Regions from separate parts of the Homo sapiens genome. Here region 2 is linked to region 1. Evidence: fine-mapped expression QTL. A gene starts in region 1. The other region holds a variant in brackets. All regions are shown on one strand. Distances are from middle to middle. Region 1 holds the start of CLASP1 (cytoplasmic linker associated protein 1). Region 2 overlaps CLASP1 (cytoplasmic linker associated protein 1).

What was found. PIP is the estimated chance that this variant, and not a neighbour inherited with it, causes the effect.
Region 2: its variant is fine-mapped to the expression of CLASP1 in whole blood (TOPMed, PIP above 0.99).

What each region holds. Positions count from the first base shown.
Region 1 is chr2:121,647,697-121,650,728 of GRCh38, reverse strand. CLASP1 (cytoplasmic linker associated protein 1) reads left to right here and starts at 1,267. Exons shown (of 41, transcript NM_001395891.1): 1 at 1,267-1,357. NIFK-AS1 (NIFK antisense RNA 1) reads right to left here and starts at 1,075. Exons shown (of 4, transcript NR_037857.1): 1 at 348-1,075; 2 at 47-261. RefSeq lists enhancers at 757-1,026, 1,058-1,684, 1,685-2,313.
Region 2 is chr2:121,421,636-121,424,135 of GRCh38, reverse strand. All of the region lies in intron 22 of CLASP1 (cytoplasmic linker associated protein 1), which reads left to right. Among named protein-coding and RNA genes, the nearest start is that of CLASP1-AS1, 110 kb to the left of the region's middle. The variant A/G (reference allele first, on the strand shown) is at 1,342.

The DNA of each region.
Region 1 (3,032 bases):
AGTAAAAACAACGCACTGGGCAGTGCATCTCAACACATCAAATTACCGGCGTGCATAGGAGCCTGATGCGGCAAATCTGTGGGTCCTTCGGGATCCTTGAAGGCAGCCCTATAATTTGCATTTTTCTACGCTCCAAAACACTTTCCGGGCCAGATGCGGTGGCTCACTCCTGCTGTCCCAGCACTTTCGAAGACCCAAGACGGCGGATCACTTGAGGTCAGGAGTTTGAGACAAGGCTGGGAAACATGGTGAAACCCATCTCTACAAAAAAATACAAAAAGTAGTTGGGGGGGGGTGGTGCACGCCTGTAATTCCAGCTACTCGGGAGGCTAAGGCAGGAGGATCACCTGAGCCTGGGAAGTCGAGGCTGCAGTGAGCCGTGATCGCGCCACTGCACTCCATCCGGCCTGGGCGACGGCGGTGAGACCCTGTCTCAAAAAAATAAAAGCCACCACTTTCCCACTTATTATCCCAGGGAAACGCACGCGACGGAGGAGCGAAGGAGCGTTTATTTGTGGAGGCGCTCAAGTAAGAAACCCTGCTCGCTGGCCGACTCAAGGGTCTCCAAAGCCTTCTCTGGGCTGTCTCCCCTCCCCAAAAGGCAAAGAACCGTTAACAAGTTTACTTCCGGCACAAGCGTCCGCGCCTGCTCGGAAAAGGGAGCGTGGACACACAGCTCTGTTACGGGAAGTCGCAGGGCACAATTTCCTTCATTGCAGTCGCCCTCTGGGCGGACGCCCTAACCCAGAAGTGAAAGACCGTTTCCTTCGAGTATCAGACCCCCGACCAAAGGAAGTTCCACTTGGACGACTTTTACCCAGGGTTTCCCGATTCCTCTTTAGCTCTTCCTATCACGCTCCCTGCTTGCTGGTGCATTGTTGCTGTGGCCACTTAGTTCCGACCTTCCTTGTCTAACTCGAGTTTTGTCGCAACTTTCCAAGGGGCCTAACCACAACCTTTTCCGTAAAAAAAAACAAAAACAAAACCTTTACCCTACGGGTCCCCATCAGGGTCAACTAACGTTCTCCGTGAGGGGCAAAGCTCCCGGGGACTTTACGCCAGCGAAGCCTAACACGGCCAGGCCAGCGCCTGCGCGGGGCGTTACCATAGAGAGGCAGCCGCCTCTCTGGTCTCGGTTTACGCTCTCTATGGTGTACCCGGGTTGGTGGCGGTAAGAAGAAAAAGGGTGACCGCACTGCGCAGGCGCCCTCGGCGTCTCTCTCGCTCTCTCGGTCTTTTTTTTTTTTTTCTTTTTTTTTTTTTTTAATCCCCGCACCAAGCGCTTAACCTCATTGGGGTGGAGGAGAAGGCGGCGGCTCTCTGGTCCGCAGCGGCAACAGTAACGAAAAACAGGGCTGTAAGTACCCGGTCAGGGGGCGGAGGGTCAGACCCGAGCCCTCTCGCGGCCCTGGCCCCTCCCGCGCAGTGGCGGGCGCCGGGTCTGGGTGGGGGCGATGTCCAGCGCTGTCATCGGCTCTTGGGTGCACTTTGGGGGGATGGGGCGGCCCTGAGGTGGGAGCCTGGCGAGGAGCGGGATGCGAGGGTTGTTTATCCAACCAGTAGGTCGCTGAGCCCAGGCTGCTTTGCAGAGGGAGGGGATCGGCCCTGGGGTCAGTCGGGCTTTGTGTGCCCCTCTCTGTTTCCCTTTTCCAGACCCCACCCGGGCCCCCTTCCTAACCCGAGTCTCCCCTGCCGGGTGGGAGAAGCCAGCGAGCCCGGGGCGCGTTTGAAAGGAAGGGAGGGGGCGAGGGAGAGAAACCCACAACAACTAGTCATTGGCGAGTGATGGGTGTGAAGAAAGATCCAGAGAGAAGGGGTGCCGGGAGGCGGGCGGCCCGGGCTCCCGTCCTGGGCTCCCAACCGGGCCAGACAAAAGCTGCGCGAGCGGCGCCGAGCGGAGCGGCCGGCTTGATGGGATGCACAAGGTCCCCTTGGTTCCCGGGGCCTTCGAAGAGCTTCTTTCTGAAGCTGGGAAAGCGAACAAGTGCTGAGTTAAGCCTGTGCAGACTTCTCAACTTGCCTTTGTTGTTCTTTGGTATTGGCAGAGACGCTCTGACGAAGATGAGTGTGTGATCTTGCACGTTAGCCTGGCTAGGTACAATGGAGCTAATCGAATTTTGCTTTCCGTTTTCCGAGCTGCTGGGATGAGTATGGGGCTTTCCAGAGTTTAAATTATTACATAATATTTTTAAAATAGTTGTTTGCTTCTAAAATTAAAAAAAATTAATGTGGAGTCTGAAAGCACGCTGTGGTGAGTTTGCAGCTGAGTTTGCAGCTGGGTGAGTTTCTGTGTAGTGGGGTGCGTTCATTAAATACTGACCATTCGTAGAACCTGTGAGCTCTTTAAACATGATACTTTCATTTGTAGATGTGGCAATGAGAGCTTCAGATTCTCTAGTCCTTTGGGAGACCGTGATGCAGAAGAGTCAGAAGCGAGAAATAGTTTCATGCCGCCATGTACCTTGGACCCTATTTGGGTGCCACAGTCCGTTTTCAATTCTGGCATTAGAAATTGTTTTTATTACTACGATTATTTACGACGGTAACTGACCTCTCGATATGAGGGATCCTGGATATTGGCTCCGTTTGCTCATCAAGGGATTGGGAGAATAGCAACATTGATGTTGCGACCATATAGATAAAAAGTAGCACAGTGCCTCAGAGTATTGAATATTATTTATTTTTTACATTTGTTAAGAAATTTAAATTTTGATGATCTGGTTATCTTGTTAAATTGTGTAATACACCTTTTTAGCAGTTGTTACTGAAATCTCAGTTTCTATAATTCATTGTTTATTATGGGCTACCTTGTAACACCATTTTAGACTTCTAAAGTTTTAGTTTTTATGAAGGAGTTTTCAGCCATAGCTTTTAATTCTCCCAGGTAAGGTTAACCAAAGTCAGGACTCCTTAGAGGAGACTTTGTTGGTGGTGGAGGTGTCAAATATTGTATCTCTGTGTTACAACTGAATTGGCAAATACAGAAAAGGCTTTTGCTAAGTTTTCACCATAAATTTGTGTTAGAACGGAAA
Region 2 (2,500 bases), 230 kb after region 1:
CCCAGATTTCTTGCTAGGGGAGGCTGCCCAGAGTAGATTCTGTTTTCATGAAGTACAAAATGGGATTGGTCCGGGTGGGGAGATGAGGGGAAAGGTTTCTAGAGGAGAGAGAAGCATCTGCAGAAGCAGTCAGGCAAGAGGCAGCCACATGTAATTCATTTGGCTGCTGTAAAGGAAGTCAGAGTGGGTGGGAGTTGGGGGCAGAGACTGGTAGAGTCCAGCTCATGAAAGTCTTTGAAGCCCACCTTAGCTACGAGAAGGCAGGAGAAGATATTTAAGAATGGATAAGATTTGATTTGAAATCCTATTTCCAAAGCAAGTAGAAAGTATTTCTTGGTTTTAGTAAATCTCTATGATGCCAACTTTTTATTGGCATTGCGTAGTGTGGTCTCTTAGCTGACAAGTTATTTGGGTGTTGATGTGGATACAATCATAGAAAAGGTCACAGCTGGAATATCTGAATTTTATGTCTGATGCTGTAACATATTTGTGTTTGGAAAATGCATTTGATTTTAAATCTAGGTGTTATGTTTTAGCTGTCTTTTTCCATAGTTAATTGTTTAAGTTTATAGGATGTCTGTTTGCAATCCATGTTAGTTTTATACATTTAAAGATTCTTTTCTGTTTTGAGATTTTTTTTCCTTTTATATTATTAAAGATGCCATTTTAATCTTCTTCTTGAAATTGGGAAATAACCCAACTTCATTTATCTAACATAATTCTAATGTGTTCCATGGTTTTAACTAGGAAGTTTGTGTTGTGTGTAGTTGAAAAGACAATATTTTATATGTTTTTAAAACAGTTATTATGGAGCATCAGTAGGAACTTAAGCCTGTTCCCTTCCAAAGAGTTATTTGAAATATTATTTGAAGAAAGTTATTTCCTTGATGCTAATTAAAGGGATCAGTTACGTGTAGAGCTTTGAGGTCATACATATAGTTTATATTAAAGAAGATATTTTCTTTAAATTTCCACACATTGCGAGAATATATGCATATAAAGAAATCTATATGAATAAAATGTATTTTCATTTTTTTCCTGTGGTATTGCTTAGAGATTGCATTTAATAGGGTGGCAGACATAATAGCATTATTCAGTAATAGATTATATATTACTATTATCATTTAGTATATACTGGATATATGCCTGTGTTTCTTAACATTTGACTCATTGTATAGCAGTTTTCAATATAATTGTTGAAAAAAAGAGGAGGAACATCTTTTAGGAATATTTTCTATAATTCCCAAACCAACAAATTCAACAGTTTTAATGATAGCTAAACTAGGTTTGGAATTTGCACTGAGAATTAATCGTAGTTATCTACAAATCGTGTTTGGTTCA[A/G]CTATGCCTCTTTTTGTTTGAAATGATACTTCTTAACAAAATTTTCTTTTTTCATTTGTTTTAAAACTGATGCCAAGGCTCTTCTTTGGCATTTAGATTTTCTTAAGCAGAACAGCCTGTAATTCCTATTAAATATTCAAGAAGCAAAATATATCCCTGATACTCTTTTTTCTTGGTGATTTGTTCCCTCATAAGCTATCTGACTAGGAAAATGTATTTTTAAGTTGTTTTATTTCTGTGTGTCTTAAAGATAATACTTTATAGATACAATAAAGTCACATAAATCACTAGTATCTATAGTGATTATATTTTGGAAGTTTGCCCTTGTTCCCTTCTCCCACTCCTCTATGGAAAGGCTATGAAAACACATTTGACATTTTTGCAGCTTTCATTCTGTGGATGTGTATTTTAAATGTTAAGGTTTTCTGGTTAAAATACTTTGAAATAATTAAACATTAATAATAGTTCATTTCAACTGTGAAATTAGACTACTGTCTAAGACCAAGACATGAAAATGTCTAGACCAGAGAGACATTTCATGTCTTTAACTTCTGGTTGTTTTTATTAATTCTCTTATATTCTGCTTTTATGAGTCCTGGTTGGACCCTTCCTTAAGATGTAAAAGTCAAGATTACCATTAAAACACTGAAGTAGGGTAGAGTGTCTATCAAGAAATGTAAACCAATCAAATGGGTATCTTACGGCTTCCCAGCATTTCATGTAAGCAGAAGACCCCAGAGGTACCTAGGAATACTGCTTTTTTAGGAAGTTCACAGTACAAGTATGTTTTCCTGGTCTCTCCCTCTTATGCCTTCTCTTCTGTAACATATTTTCACATAGAACATTTAGTTTGGCACTTAAAGAGACAAGACTATTTTGGTGGGATTTTCTTCTTTTAGTTTTGATCACCTAATTAATTCATTTATAAAAAGTCATTTATATACTTATTTTAGGCCGGGTGCAGTGGCTCACGCCTGTAATCCCAGCACTTCGGGAGGCCGAGGTGGATGAATCCCTTGAGGTCAGGAGTTGGAGACCAGCCTGACCACCATGGCAAAACCCCATCTCTATTAAAGATACAAAACTTAGCTGGATGTGGTGGTGCGTGCCTGTAATCCCAGCTACTTAGGAGGCTGAGGAAGGAGAAGCACTTAAACCT